Regions from separate parts of the Homo sapiens genome. Here all the other regions are reported to be linked to region 2. Evidence: microRNA targets listed by miRTarBase, many of them from high-throughput screens and not tested one by one. Region 2 holds a microRNA gene; each other region holds the end of a gene's coding sequence.

Evidence for each region. The annotated mature microRNA hsa-miR-3173-3p reads AAAGGAGGAAAUAGGCAGGCCA and lies in region 2 at 1,921-1,942, opposite strand. An mRNA with a match to its seed (bases 2 to 7 or 8) in the 3' UTR can be bound and repressed. Matches are read on the target gene's strand: a 7mer-m8 pairs with bases 2 to 8, a 7mer-A1 pairs with bases 2 to 7 and ends in A, and an 8mer does both.
Region 1: the mRNA of TCHHL1 is a reported target of hsa-miR-3173-3p. Seed matches in the 3' UTR shown: 7mer-A1 at 3,920-3,926.
Region 3: the mRNA of N4BP1 is a reported target of hsa-miR-3173-3p. Seed matches in the 3' UTR shown: 7mer-m8 at 1,293-1,299 and 7mer-m8 at 3,329-3,335.

What each region holds. Positions count from the first base shown.
Region 1 is chr1:152,080,415-152,085,487 of GRCh38, forward strand. TCHHL1 (trichohyalin like 1) reads right to left here. Exons shown (of 3, transcript NM_001008536.2): 3 at 3,727-5,073. The coding sequence ends at 4,553. It also overlaps the pseudogene LOC100131107. Among named protein-coding and RNA genes, the nearest start is that of TCHHL1, 6.1 kb to the right of the region's middle.
Region 2 is chr14:95,136,003-95,141,071 of GRCh38, forward strand. MIR3173 (microRNA 3173) reads right to left here and starts at 1,984; the gene lies at 1,917-1,984. The region is part of intron 1 of DICER1 (dicer 1, ribonuclease III); the gene reads right to left.
Region 3 is chr16:48,538,457-48,543,529 of GRCh38, reverse strand. N4BP1 (NEDD4 binding protein 1) reads left to right here. Exons shown (of 7, transcript NM_153029.4): 7 at 269-4,804. The coding sequence ends at 626. Among named protein-coding and RNA genes, the nearest start is that of N4BP1, 69 kb to the left of the region's middle. RefSeq lists enhancers at 908-1,408, 1,409-1,909, 4,457-4,956.

The sequences.
Region 1 (5,073 bases), not on the chromosome of region 2:
GTTAAACTTGCCTCTCAGATGAGGGATCCTCACGGGGCTGAGGTGTCCAAACATCATGGAGTTGCAAGCAGACAGCATGGGTTTCTTCCTTGAAGGGGGGCTCCAGACCACAGGAGGCAGGACCCTCTGTGGGGTGCCCGTGTTCTGAGGGATAAGACACAGCCTCATAGGGGCGCCATCCCACCTGACTGGAAAAGAAGGCCCAAGATGTCGCTGACGGTTGAAGAGGAGTGGGAAACGGCCCACGATTCCCCGGGCAGGCACAGGTGCAGGAGCCGCTGGGTGAGCCCGGCCAGCTGGGAAGGCCTCACGGACAAGACAAGCAGGTTGCCGATGGCATGGCCAGGACCTGCGGCGGAACCAGGAACAAAATACGCTTAGTGAGTTGCCCATTTTGAGCGAGTTGTGCACAGACGAAACTAAGGGTCAGAAGCAGAGAGGATACTCCTAAGTCACCCACTTCTCTGTGGCCGGGTGCACACTGGGCATCTGGGAGTTTATGACATCACCATGGGGCTGGTGACAGAGCCAGGGTTGTGGAGGAGTGCTTAGGAGCCCAGCGAGGGTGCCTACAAGAGGGGTAAAAGGGCAAAGGGTGAGACCCTTCCACCGGTCCAGCTGGACTCTAGCCTCAGGGACGTCCTGCTCCTGGGGGCAGGTGTGTGGCCCTGGATGGGCCCCCCTGTGGGGCTGTTGGGGGTGCGGGGCTGATCTGCCAGAGCCCTTCCGCCTGGCGCCCGGCCCAGGTGCTGGCTGGCACCCAGTGGCCCTGTCTTGGCCGGCCCTGTCTCCCGGGTTACAGGGCCAGAACCTGGAAGCAGAGCGCAGGACCAGCCAGATCCCGCTAGGCTCCCCCGGGTCCTCTCCAGTGCCTCTGTGCCGCCTGGAGCCAGGCCCGCCTTCTCCATGGCTGCTGTGGCCTCAAGGGCCACCAGCCCCGCTCCGCAGGTTTCCAAAGAGAGGACGCGGTGCCCTGACCTGACTGGATGCGCCTCTTACCACATGCCTCCCTGGCAGGCAGTGTCTCCACTTTTTACAAATTTGCCTGAGACCATTCCTCAGGTCATTCAGGTGGTCATGGCCCAGCCAGGCTTTGAACCTGGGCTGTGTGATTCCACAGCTGGCGCTCTGGCCTGTGTGCCTCATGATCATGGATACAGCATCTATTCTTATTTTTTCCTGTAGTCCTGGGGTACTTAGCACCATGGCATATCTGTAATAAGCACATGCACACCTTGAAGGAGTTCTTCACTTCAGCATACAAGTTGACCATGGCATGCTCTGGGCTCCAGTCCTCTACAAAGATGTAGGGCAGGAACTACCAGTTGTCAGCACAGCACCATCCCACATTACTCTTCTAATGGAGCCTTTCACCCCAGATGTTCTTTCTTGTTTGATGGGAAGGATCCAAGTATGTAAAGATTATGTTCTAGATCAGCTTTGGTCTGTCCTAAAAGAAATTTGCCAGTGGATTATTCCATATGGATAAAAGTCAGTTTCTCTGGTCTTCCTGGAATGTGTCTAGAAAGCAAATACATTATTTACAAGTTCATAGTAGATCAATGTATTGGATTAAAATATGACAAACATAATTTGGTCATTGTGAGCATGCCAGCTCGGTCAACTATTCACCACACATGATGCCCTAAATATAACTCTAGGTTTTCTTATGCCCAAGAGAGGGACATACTTTTGGGTGTCTGGACTAGGAAAACATGTATGAAAAACCATTTGACCACTCTACATCTTGTTATTGGAGAATTGAAACCATCTATATTCAAAGATATTATTAAAAGGCAAGAAGTTAAAAAAAAAGAAAAACTATTGAGATAACAAAGTGGATTAGATATGAAGAATAAGACAAGGTAAATGATGATTCCAAAGTTTGTGCCTTTGAAGCATGATAGAATGAAGATTGAGAGAATGACAGTAGGAAGGAAATTGAGAAGACAAGCCAGTTTGTCTGGAAGTGGTTGACAATAGAAGGCGTCATATCTGTGAGCATTTGTAGAGACTGGATTGAAGTGCACAGTCAGGTTTGAACAAGGTGAATTGAGACTCATCAGTGTGAAAGAGATAATAGTAAGTTGGACCAAGCATGGGTTCTCACGAGGAGAAAGTTCATAAAAAGAAGAGTCCTTGGAAAGGGGGCACAGTCTTGGGCACTGGATGAGAGGAATTAACTAGGGAGATGGGGAAAGACCACTGAAGGGAGTATTTCATGAAAGACAGTCATCAATGCCCGATGTCCAAAACTGTGGAAGCTGGAGGTCTTTAGGCTTGTTGGATGGAGGGCAACATCACCTTCAAAGGAATACTTCTTGAAGGATGATGGCAAAAACATATATATATATATATATATATATATTCAGCAAACTTTTCTTCTTTCTGCCCACCATTCTATTAGTGCTGATTGCTGGAATGCTAAGAGAGTGTTTAAAAATTGTTGCTATTAAGTTTTTAATTTTTTCAGTTAAGAAAATAAAATATGCTTAGTACAGAAAATTTTGATTTCTTTTTCTATTTTAGTAGAGATTAGGTCTCACTATGTTGTCCAGGCTTGTCTCAAACTCCTGAGCTCAAGTGATCCTCCTGCCTTGGCTTCCCAAAGTGCTGGGATTACAGGCATGAGCCACTGCCCATTTATTTAATGCCGTCAGCAAACCATATAGGTAAACGTTTCTGCTTTTTGGCTGTTCTTGTTCCTCTGTGAGTTGTGCATCCTTTTCTATGACTGCCAGCACCACTGCCACTGGAGCTGTTTTGTCATTCACATTTTCTTCAATTCTAGTGAGGATTTCGAATGTTTATTGGCCATCTGTATAGCTTCTTTTGTGAATTTATTAATAATGAAGTTTTTCATTTTTATGGACTCAGATACTTATTGCCACATTGCTTGCCAAAAGGGATGACGAGTTTATGCTCTAGTATGTATATATTTATTTATACTAAAATTATCTATAATTATATATAAATAAAAATTATATATAATTTTATAAACTAAAAATTATGTATATTTTATAAACTAAAAATTAGTGTATAATTTTATAAACTGAAAATTATGTATATAATTTTATAAACTAAAAGTTATGTATATAATTTTATAAACTAAAAGTTATGTATATAATTTTATAAACTAAAAATTATGTATATAATTTTATAAACTAAAAATTATGTATATAATTTTATAAACTAAAAATTATGTATATAATTTTTTCCTTTAGTAAGTCTATGCTCTAGTGTAGTACATATGTATGTTTGTGTATGTGTATGTATATTAGAGCATGGACAAACTAAAAGAAATATATATATTTTTCTTTTTTATGAATTGTCTCATGTTTCTTGCTCATTTAAAGTAATATTTTTTTCAGATAGGGATATAATTCATATTTGAGTGTAGAATGAAAAGAGCTGAAAATATTGGAGGGGGAGGTTATATACTTGGATTTTAGGCTCTGGAAAATGTGAAGGTTGAAGTGGAAGAATACTGAACCTCGAAGGCAGAATGCAATGGGAGATGGAGTATTGGACTGCTTTTTGGCTTCAGGAAACATTGTATGATAACAATTTTATTCCTTTCCTGGGTCATGACTAAGCTTGAAGAGCATCATACTTTAATTATAGTCTTTTGAAAAAACACAAATAACTAAGATTGTTTTCGTTTTTGATCAGTGTCTCCAAGGCAAGACGGAGAATGAGGGGAAAAAAATGACCCAACAAAAGAAATTGATCATCAGGTTGTTTAATTATCAATTTTAATTTAATACCCTCATCAAACCATATAGGTAAACACTTAGTAGACTCACTGGATGGTTGGTTACAAGAGCTTCTTATAAAATCAAACATACTTTAGATTTGTGTTTTCTCTCATAATTATTCTTGATTGTTTATTTGAGCCAAAAGCTATGAAAAGTTTGTGTAAGGAGTGGGATTTAATAAAAATTTGTTGGATGAGTAATTGAAAGAATGAATCCATGGCGATAGATTCAGCTGCACCTGAACATGAGCAGAGTCATAAATTTACTTTAATCAAGTGCTAGAAAATCATAATTAAGTTATGGCATTGTCTAAAATTATTTTGAAGGATAAAATTTTAGGATGAACTTGAAATACTTCTAGGAAATGTCATGAAGCAGAGTAATCTATATATATGAATTAATATTTTATGATTATGAGATATTATTGCAGAGTCTTATAATTTCCTACTGCTCTATTTTAAATTCAATGAATCAGTTGGAAAAACTGGCACCTGCTAAAGATATGGAAGGAATTTTTCCATTTTTAATGACAGGTACATTGAGATAAACTGTCTCATGACAAAGCCCATTTTGGCATTTGGAAGTAGCATTGTTTGGTAGGAGTTTTACTGACTGTATTTGTTTGCTCAGATGTTTCTTTAGTGGTGTCCCCCACTGCTGAATATTTTATTATTTGTTTTTGTAGAAATTTAGGAAGAGAATTTAAAAGATTGTTAATCTGCATCTGAATGTGTACACGTGAGTATTGAGGGTGATTGGGAGAGAAATTGGGGGCATGTTGAGATGATAATGATTCATTGCTTTGTGGTGCTTGCCTCCCTTTGTAGTACCAGCCTCTCTCTCTGAGGGTGACCTTGCTTATCTTCCAAGGCCTGGGGAGCTGGTGTTTCCTGTGCACCAGCAGGACTCTCATCAAGTGGAAGTCCCCTGGTATATGGTTGTGATGCTTGGCTGTAGTTGAAAAAGACAGAACAATCTGAGATCTCACTGGTGAGGGATACACTGCAAAGCTCTGGGCCTGATGCCTGGGCTATCTGAACTTGCTTTTGATGCTCCTCTTGGGTTACATTTGTTTGCTGCAGTATCTTCTCCTGTAGGTACTGGTATAGTGGACTGGAATAGACTGCACCCCTCTCCACAGAACAGGGCTCTTGGTCTCTCTGCATCTGCTTTTCAAGACTTGACCAGGGGACTGAAGAATTGTGCTCTTTCTTGGCTGGACTTTTTTGGTCACCACCTTCTCCTGCCAGCTCTTGGGGACTTTCATCTTCCTCCTCTGATGTTACAGGTTCCTTTGTTTCAAGTTGTATCTTGA
Region 2 (5,069 bases):
ATACACTGAAGTATTTAGGGGTAAAGAGCTATGATACATGTAACTTATTCTCAAATGGTACAGAAAAAGAATCTACATGTAGATACACACACACACACACACACACACACACACACACACACAGCTGATAAAGCAAGTGGGGCAAAATGGGTACAGCACATATTTTTGTCCTATTATTCTTGCAACATAAATCTTTTTCTTCATTTTCTGCTCAAATATAAATAAATACCTCATTCCTTTATGTATTCAAAAGCACAAGGACAGGTGATTCTGGCTAGCTCTCAAATACTCCATTTCCTCCACAGGTAATAGCCATGCTCAACTCAGCGTGGTCTCAGTCAAACAGTGGCTCACTGATCAAGGATCCAGTTTCTTTTTTTCTTTTTTTTCACCAAGACTGAGAATCACTCGATCACTCAGGCTGAGTGCAGTGGTGCAATGATGGCTCACTGCAGCCTCAACCTCACAAGTAGCTGGGACCACAGGTGTGCATCACCACGACTGGCTAATTTTTTAATTTTTTGTAGAGACAGGGTCTCACTATGCTGCCTAGGCTCTAGTTTCTTATTTTCTGCCATCTGCCAGTCACCCAAACCTAAGCTGATGGGCATACAACTTACCCCTGGCCAGAGGAATTGGTTCATGCTCATCCAACAGCAAAAAATTTAGGACTTTCATTTGATGGTTGAAGAGAAGCAGTTGTCTTTCTTTCCCTCTAAAGATGACTCATGAAATTATTAGTCCCATTTGCTGCTGCAATTACACTACACAGACCCATGAAAAGATCCAGCCTTAGGATGAAACCAGCACCGCAGATGGCAAAAATAAAGAACCTGGGTCATTGATGACATCAATAAACTGCTGGATCAACCAAACTCAAAGCCCAGCCTAACAATGGACTTTCCAATTAACTGAGCCAACAAATTCCTTAACTATCCAAGCTAGCTTGAGTTGAATATTCTGGGATAAAAGCAAACCAAATGACACTCTCTAAATCACTATTATCACTTCCTGTAAAAGGTATAAGTAGAAAAGAGGAAAGCAAAGAACAGATATGAACAGAAAGGAAAGGAAAAAAAGGAAAGAAGGGAAAGAAGGAAAGGAGGAAAAAGGGAAAGCAAGGGAAAGGGGAAAAGGAAAGAAAAGGGAAAGGAAGAGGAAGGGGAAGGAAAAGGGGAAGGAGAAGGAAAAGGGGAAGGGGAAAGGAAAAAGGGAAGGGGAAAGGAAAGGGGAAGAGGAAGAGAAAGGGGAAATAAAAAGGAAAATGGAAAGGGGAAGGGGAAGGGAAAGGCAAAAGAAAAAGGAAAAGGGAAAGGGGAAGAGGAAAGGGAAAGGGGAAGGGGAAGGGAAAGAGGAAGGAAAAGGGAAGGGGGAAGGGGAAGGAAAAGGTAAAGGGGAAAGGGAAAGAAAAAGGGGAAGGGAATAAGAGGAAGGAAAAGGGGAAGAGGAAAGGGAAAGAAAAAGGGGACAGGAATGGGGATAGGGAAGGGGAAGGGAAAGGGGAAGGGGAAGGAAAAGGGAAAGGGGAAAGGGAAAGAAAAAGGGGAAGGGAATGGAGAAGGGGAAGGGAAAGGGGAAGGGGAAAGGAAAAAAGTCAGGGATCAAAGCAGAAAGCCATCAGGCCACAAATATTGAGATAATGAACAAGTACTGCAGCCAGACCCCAAGCAAGGTGAAAAGCTTTGTTTGTAAGGGAAAAGTCAAGGGTCTTAGACTCCAAAAAACCAGGGATGAGCTCTACCAAGAAGCTTCTAAGACTTTGAAAATGTTCTCCTTATTTGTCCTTAGGAATACTTTTTTTCACTTTCTGCTATCAGTAAATTCTTTTTGAAACTGCAAAGCCGCTTGTTTCGGAAACAAATTGAGGAAAAATCTGGACAGTTCTTCCTCGGCACAAGAGAGGGAGAGAGATCGTTTCCCTGGCCTGCCTATTTCCTCCTTTGTTCTCATAAAATCACAAAGGAGAAAACAGGCAGGGCAGGGAAGCTGGCCCAAGACCAACAAAGACTCAATTCTATCTGGAAAATAAGCCCTAGACCTCCAATGTTTCTCAGGCCCGGTTTCACCTCAAGACACCAACCTCACTCAAGTATGTGGATCCTATTCCTACAAACCAGCAGGTAAAGAGCTTGGAAAAGGAGGAGTTGCAAATTCACTCAGTGTCCAGGTTCTGTTCCTGGCATTTCAAAGGACAGAGATTTTTTTTTTTTCTTAGCAAACACAACATTTCTCATAAATGCCCTACCCCACCCTAAAACTTTCACAGGGTTTAGAAAAAAATGATAGGTAGCTGGTTTCTAAGAATCAATCTGAGAAAAAAAGTGGAAAAAAAAAACAGAGAAATGAAAGGTTACATTTATCAACATTTAGGCTCTAAATAAAGAGAAAATAGATACATTATATAGTAAAAATAAATATCAAACAATAAAGAAATACAGAAATAACATCTCTAACCAAAAATACCTGAAAAGATTAAGGTTTCTATCAGCTCTCACAAAAAACCATGTGTAAGAAAATAATACAAACTACTGGAATGGAATTCATTAAAAAGTTGATATTTAAAAAGGAAATTAAGCAAAGCACTACACTCTGTGATATCTAGTCCCAAATGTACTCTGAAAAGTACTGCCCCCACTCATGACTGCCTGACTTCTGCCGACCTGTAACCTTACGTTCAGATTATTCACCCAGCTTCTCAGTAAACTATCGCAAGAACAAAAAACCAAACACCGCATATTCTCACTCATAGGTGGGAATTGAACAATGAGATCACATGGACACAGGAAGGGGAATATCACACTCTGGGGACTGTGGTGGGGTCGGGGGAGGGGGGAGGGATAGCATTGGGAGATATACCTAATGCTAGATGACACATTAGTGGGTGCAGCGCACCAGCATGGCACATGTATACATATGTAACTAACCTGCACAATGTGCACATGTACCCTAAAACTTAGAGTATAATAAAAAAAATAAAAATAAATAAAAAAATAAAAAAAAAAAAAAAAGAATGCTATCCTATTGCTGCCTCATCACCATTCACCAGCAATTTCCACAACAGAAGAGTAATCCCTGTTGGCTGAAAGCCTATAGCATATTATGCATCCTCCCTGACTGACCAACTGAAAGTGTTTAATCCTGTATTTCAATCCTATGTGCTCAATCCAAGTGATCCTAGCAGTTATACTACAGAGGCTTGGGGTATAGTCTTAATCCATAAAATGTACTTCTGTAATTTTATATGAATTCTTATTTAGAAAATTTCTCTTAAAACTCTGTTCTCACTAAAATATGACCAATTAGACTAGAATTTCCTTGGATATAGGAGCTGCATATCTTACCCTTACCTGTATTACCCACTGTACAGAACCACATCCAGGACATGGTAAACAAAAACTGCAGGTTGTTAGAATGAAAACAATGTCCACCTGAGTGACATTAAAACCTCAAACAGCTTCTATTTGCCTTTCATAATTTCTATCACAGATTTTTAGAGCTATTCATAGACACACATACACAACATACATGTTATTCTTTTACTGGAGCACAGCTCCATAAGAACAAGACATGAGTCTCATTCTTTGCACCTCTTAAATTTCCTGCTACAATGTTCTGTATATACATTTAAGTAAATATTTGACAAACTGAATTAGAGACTCATGAATGTCCACACAATAATATACAGAACAGAATCATGGATGGATCAAGATATATTTCTATTCGGTTTGGAAACACACATCTATCCCACTCCTACCAGCCCTGAGAGATGAGTGCAGGAGAGAGGATGTACAAGGACATAAAGAACAACAATTTAACCCTTCCAATTATATTTTCCATAAGGTTACAATGTTTAAATTAATTTTCATTCATTTAGTGGACAATAACTGGCCCCAGTAATGCACTTTCTATTTAGGGAAAACAAATCCAAGACTTAAAATTCCAACAGGTAATCTGTAATATAAAAACAGGAAAACCTATAATTTTGCCAATTTTTACTTTCTTGGCATGTTTAAACAGATTTTTTAAACTTGGCCTTAATGAAAAGATCTGAATCTCTGCTGGCAGGTAAAGGTTCTAGTTTCACAGATAAACTGGCTACCATTAACTGCTTTTGCAGAGCCAAAATAACTCCACATGACTGTTTTTCAACTATAGATTTTAAATTTCTGGTCAAACAACTTACCCTCATGAAACTAGTGAGGTTGTTTCATAGTTTCCACATATTATGCACTTAGAAATACAGTCATGCACCCAATAACAATGTTTTAGAGACTGACCCCGTATAAGACTATGGTCTCGTAAGATTATGATACTGTATTTTTACTGTACCTTTTCTATGCTTAGGTATATTTAGATATACAAATACCACTGTGTCACAACGGCCTACAGTATTCAATATAGTAACATGGTGTACAGGTTAGTAGCCTAGGAACAAAAGGTCATACCATATAGCCTAGGTGTATAATAGGCTATACCATGTAGGTTTATGTTAATTAAGTACACTCTATGATGTTCACACAATGACAAAATCGCCTAACAATGCATTTCTCAGAAGATATCCAGTCATTAAGCAATGCATGACTGTAATTTAGCAAAAGACAAGAAAGACAAGAATAAACTCTCTTCCTCTTTCCACATGATGAATCACAGATTTACCGTTTTAATGTTTGAGATCTCTGTGTTGCTCTTGTCTGAACTGCATTTTGACATTGTGATAGCAGTTTATTGGAAAATCACAGCATGCCCAAGCTTCTGCTCTAAAAATAAATGCAAAAATAGCCAAGTTTAAGATTCCTGTAAACTGAACAGAAACACATCTACAAGAGAGCCCTACTGATATGAAGAGTTGAATAAAAGGCCATTATTTTGAATTAAATTTTAAACAAAAGGCATTTAGATTATTTTAGGATACCAAGGCTTACCCTAAAACAAAGAACAAGAGAATAAGCTACAATAGCATGCCTAATTCCCAGAGATCTGGGAGAAATAAAGAGCTAGAGCAAAGTTCAAAAAAAGATTTCAAAGCTAATATAAGGAAATCAAAGTAAATAAAGTCTAAAGATGGTATT
Region 3 (5,073 bases), not on the chromosome of region 2:
CCTCACAGCAGAAGACCTGGGAGGGTGGTGCTCCCTCATAGAGCGCATTGATTCCCTGGCACGCCTTGAGGTGATGTCAGTGAAATCCCCGCAGGCTCCTCTGTGGGTGTCTCATGGCACCATCTCCACCTCAGTCTTGCATCCTGCCTTTGGAAGCCAGGGAGCGGCATCCTGAGCCTCAAGGCCTGCCGCAGGTACCTTCTAAAATAGCTCTATGATTTTTTGTTTACTTATAACCCAACTCACCAGGACTCACTTCCATTCACAGAGATATGCAGCCCCTACTCAGTGCCCTGCCAAATGTGGGCATGTTTGACCCCAGCTTCAGAGTCCCTGGCACCCAGGCAGCCAGCACCAGCCACCAGCCTCCGACCCGGATTCAGGGAGCCCCTTCAAGCCACTGGCTCCCTCAGCAGCCCCACTTCCCACTGCTGCCAGCCCTCCCCAGTCTCCAGCAGAACCTGCCCATGCCAGCTCAGAGATCTTCTGCAGAAACCAACGAGCTGAGGGAAGCCCTTCTGAAGATCTTCCCTGACTCAGAGCAAAGACTGAAAATAGACCAGATCTTGGTGGCCCACCCATACATGAAAGATCTAAATGCGCTTTCTGCCATGGTGTTGGATTGAAGATTGTGCTGAGCGCTGAGCTTGCGCTCAGGGCTGGCTGATCAAACTCAAGCTCACACCTGTACCTGATGGGAATGAACATAATGTGAAGAAACTTATTTCCCAGTGTAAACGCAGTTGTACAGAAAAAAAATGTTTTGGGTATAAATCTGGGTTTTCAAAACCAGCTTTTTTCTATATATAAATTATGCTGCTATTACAGATTTAACATTTTCTGTTAAAGGAAAGTCTACATTTTCTGCCTGTTCAGAACTGTTTAATAGCAGTTACTCTTGAGTGTATTTACCTTTTTATGTTTTTTAAACTATTTTCCTTAAAGCCGAAAATATTGACAAATGGATATGGTTAGCCTTTATAAATAAATAAAAAAAAAAGTGTTGCTTTCTTAAGGAAAGCAAGACGTCTTAAAGTATATTTTCTTGAGATGAGTATGTCCCATCACTACCATGAAGTGTGCTCACCCTTCCAGCCTCCTCTGCCCTCACCCCCGGAGTTAAAGTGGGTAAGAGTTGGTTTGTTCTGCAGTCTTTGGTTGGAGTGTTGTGAAAGTGGACCCGCGGTGCCACTAGATGGCACTTGGTGCCTAGCCATGGTGAATGACCAGGGCGAAGTTAGTCTCACAGAATACCAGGGCTAGAAGACATCGTGGAGCCCATGGAGTCCCACCCTCCTTCCCCCTTCCACCCTGCGCAAAAGGGGACGGCCCAGTGTGCACGCCGTCCGGCCATGCCCACAGCCACAGCCACAGCTGAGGAGTGGCCGGGCAGGCAGCAGGCTCCCCAGCCAGGGCTTGACACGCCCACAGTCAGGGGCCTCCACATGCCTGGCCTGGCTCTGGAAGTCACGTCTTAGCTTCTGAACACCGTAGCGGGTTATGAGGAAGTTTAATGAAGAGCCCGGTCACTGTGGCCATCTTGTGTCCCCAACTGCAGGAGACGCCCTGATGTGGAGTTTGTACAGCTTTGCCAAAAAATGGTTTTCTATTCTCAAAAGTGACCCAAGCCAATAAATAGCATTAGTAGCTTCTGTGGGGGGATCCCAGAGCCCCTGTATTTATTTTCCCTGTGTTTGTCTCTAGTGTCCTCCTAAACAGCCTTTCCTGTGAGTCTTTCTCAGAATTGATATCTTAATATTGTCTGTTCTAGGTGTTGCCCAAATTCAGTGTCAGTGAAGTTCTTTTCCTGGGCAATCTTAACATCTTTACTCTTATTGTCTGGACCTTCAAAGGGCTTTGTATTTTACACCTGCGCCCCCAGGCTGCTCACAGTCGGCTTGCTGCCTGTCCTGCCTGTCCGGATCTTGTCTCCTAGTCCTGAGGAGCGGAGGCTGAGAACTCAGTGCTGGTTTGTAAATGGTGAGGGGACTTGGGGGCATCCCAGAGTGCTCCCTCCAGGCCTGCTTCTTGGTTTTGTTTGATCACTGCGTTCTTCAAGGGATGAATCCAGAGCCCTCCATGAGGCCAAGCTTGTCCTTCAATCATGTTTCCTCTCAGATGCGTCCGTGATGCCTCCTAATGTGGAACTGGTTGTCCATTGTTTGGGCCTATGGCCAAGTCACCCAGCTGTGGAAGCAGAGGTAGAAGACGAGGCCAGCCAGGAGGGCGACTTCAGTCACAGCTCCCATGCCTCAGCTTTGTACCTGTTTTCAAAAGCACAACTGAGGTGTGCGGGCTGGAGCTGTCTTGCAGTGATTCTGGCCTTCTGGCTCATGGTTCAGTCCAGCAGCCTGGCTGACCCACTATTTCTCCTCTGCTTCAGAGGAAACCCAGGAAATGCCCTTACTGCCAGGCTGAGTCTCCACCCATGCTGGTTGGTGCTGGCTAGGCTGAGGGGGCCACCACTTTTCCTGGCTAGAAGCTACTTGACCTTTGATGTTTGAGTTCTGTAAGTCTTCGTGTTCTGACTTACTGCTTCAGAGGGATTGGCCTGTCCCCTTTCCCTTTCTCGGCTATGGGAAGGAAGGATTGCTCATTGGTTGCCTTCATCAGTTACAGCATGAGACGGAATTCATCATTCCTTCCGAAACCCCTGATATTTAATATTTAATATTTAAAAACCCAAATTATCAAACCATTAAGAACTCATTACTGGTTCTCAGCCTCCTCCAGTACTAGCCTCAGTGTGGCTGCTGCATAAGTATCTGTAGCCTGTCTACCTCCTGCAGTGGGGCCGCTCGCCTCTTCCCTGTCTACTGCTCAGGCTCTCCCACTTCGTGGCATCCATGTAAAGTAGGTGGCAGGGCAGAGATGTCACTCTCATTCAACAGGGAGGATGTCTGTTGCTCAGAGAGGTTGTCCTGAGGGGCTGGGTGATTCCTGGGCCTACATTCTTCCCGAGGCTCCAGGCCGCTGTCTCTGGAAGTAAAAGAGCCTTGTCTGACCTTAATGCAAGCAGTCTGTTTGAACCCCTGTAGGCTGCATTCAGGAGACAGAAGGTGTCTGGGCCATCCTGGGCGGCCGGTCAGCGTTGCTAGGCAGGCTCGGCTGTCTGGCCGGGACTTGGGCCTGGGTGGCTTTTGAGACCAGTGAAGAAGGGAGAGCCGGCCTCATGCCGATGCGGCTTGTGGCACGGCTGGGATGTGAGGGAGGACTCAGATCTACACACAGAAACCCCTCTTCTCCCCGCCCTCCCCCAGCTCCTACCTGCCTCCCACGCCTCAGGTGTGGCTGCCTGTGGGACCATCCCCCAACCCCTTTCCTCGCACCTCCTTGTCCTCACCCAGTTCCTGCAGTGTCTCTGACCCACGCCTCCCGCCTCCTGGCCGACTTGCCCAGGAGGTGTCTCTGGCTCACCTCCGTCTGTTCATCACCTTCCTCCCCAGTGTTTCCACTTATCTTGGATGTTTTAGATTGAAACAGCCTGATTCCCGGAAGAATCCTCTTCATTCATTGCTAGTGCTTCCCCTCACCTCCCACTCTCCACTTCCCAGTTTGCAAATGTGGCTTTCGCCCACCAAGTGAAAGCGGACTGAGAGCAGCCCTTGGGGACGGCCCGGTGCCTGGCTGCAAGGCCGCGCTGGGGCTCTGTCTTGGTGCACATGGCTTGACCGGACTTTCCCTGCTTCCCACCACTTCCCTCACTCCCAGACCTCCCTCATTCTTTTTGTCTCTTCTTTTTGCCTAAAGCCAGTCCTTAACACCCTATTCTTCCTCTGCAGGTGGCTTGCAGACTTTTCCCCACCTTTGGGGCTCGTGGTGGTGGAGAGGGCAGCTGGTGTTAAGAATGTAGGTTACCGGGCATGACCCGGCAGATGCTTGCCCAGTAGTTCTGGAGGAAGGCCCGGGAATCTGCAAATGAGCGCATTCCCCAGGCAGTTCCCATGCAGGTGATCCACGGACCACATGTTGAGAAACTGCAGTCACCCTTAGGGCCACACCGTCCCTCTCCTCGCTGTCCCCTCTCTGTAGTGACTGGCCCTGACCTTCAGGAGTGCACTTTCCACTCTACCAGGAAGCCCTATGACATCCTCAGGCTCCCCAGACCTGCAGCTTGCATGGGGCCCCTCCCTTCTTCCACACCCACCCTCCGTATGGTCCCCTGCTCTGCCCTCGTGCTTTGCTGGCCCCTGCCCGCTACTCCCACTCTCAGACACCCAGGGGTGGTGGGCCCTAACTGGCTGGCCCCTCCCAGCGCTGCCCTCTGCCGTCCAGATGCTGCAGTGTGGCCAGATTTACCTTCCAGTAACATACTTCTAGTCACCCCTCCTCCTGCGAAGTGATCTGCAGTGGCTGTTTGACCAGACCACAAAGTTCACATCTCCTGAGCTTAGTGTCCGTGGCTGTCCACCTCCCAGCCATACTTGACTGTCCCCAAACTCTCCCTGCAGCCACATGTTTCCCATGACCTGTGGGCTCTGCAGATGGACCTCTCTCCGCTAGAGATGCCCTTCTCCCAAATGGCTTCCCTCCTGGAAGGCCCAGCCTGAGTCCTCGTCTCCTTTCCAGTGCTTCTGCCAGAAGCATCCCCATGATGTTGTGACCGCACAGCACTTTGTGTCTCGCTTTGAGCACTTGCCACTCTGGCTGGTGCTGCTGCCACTGATTGTGTACTGTCTTGCTGCCCTTTCTAGACTGTGAGCTCCTCGTGGGCAGGGACCGCCTGTGTTCTCTGTATTTCCCACGGCGCCTAGCACAGTGCCTTGCACTTGATAGGTGCTTAATAAATGTCTGCTCAACTGAACTGGAGGACAGTGCCTTCTTGACTGCGGCATCTGGCAGCAGGACCAGTAAGAGGCCGGGAATCCACTGCCCTGCAGTGGGACAGTGGGGTGGGGCTGGGGTCACTCCACTCCCTTCTCCCTCCCCTGCCAGGCTCCAGCACATGGCATCCTGGGCACACAGGTCCGGGGAGGGGTACCTGGCGCAGGCTGCATACTAGATGCACTCAGGCTTCCTGGCCAGGGCCGACAGCCGGCCCAACCTATGCCAGTCCAAGTCACTCCTGGGGAG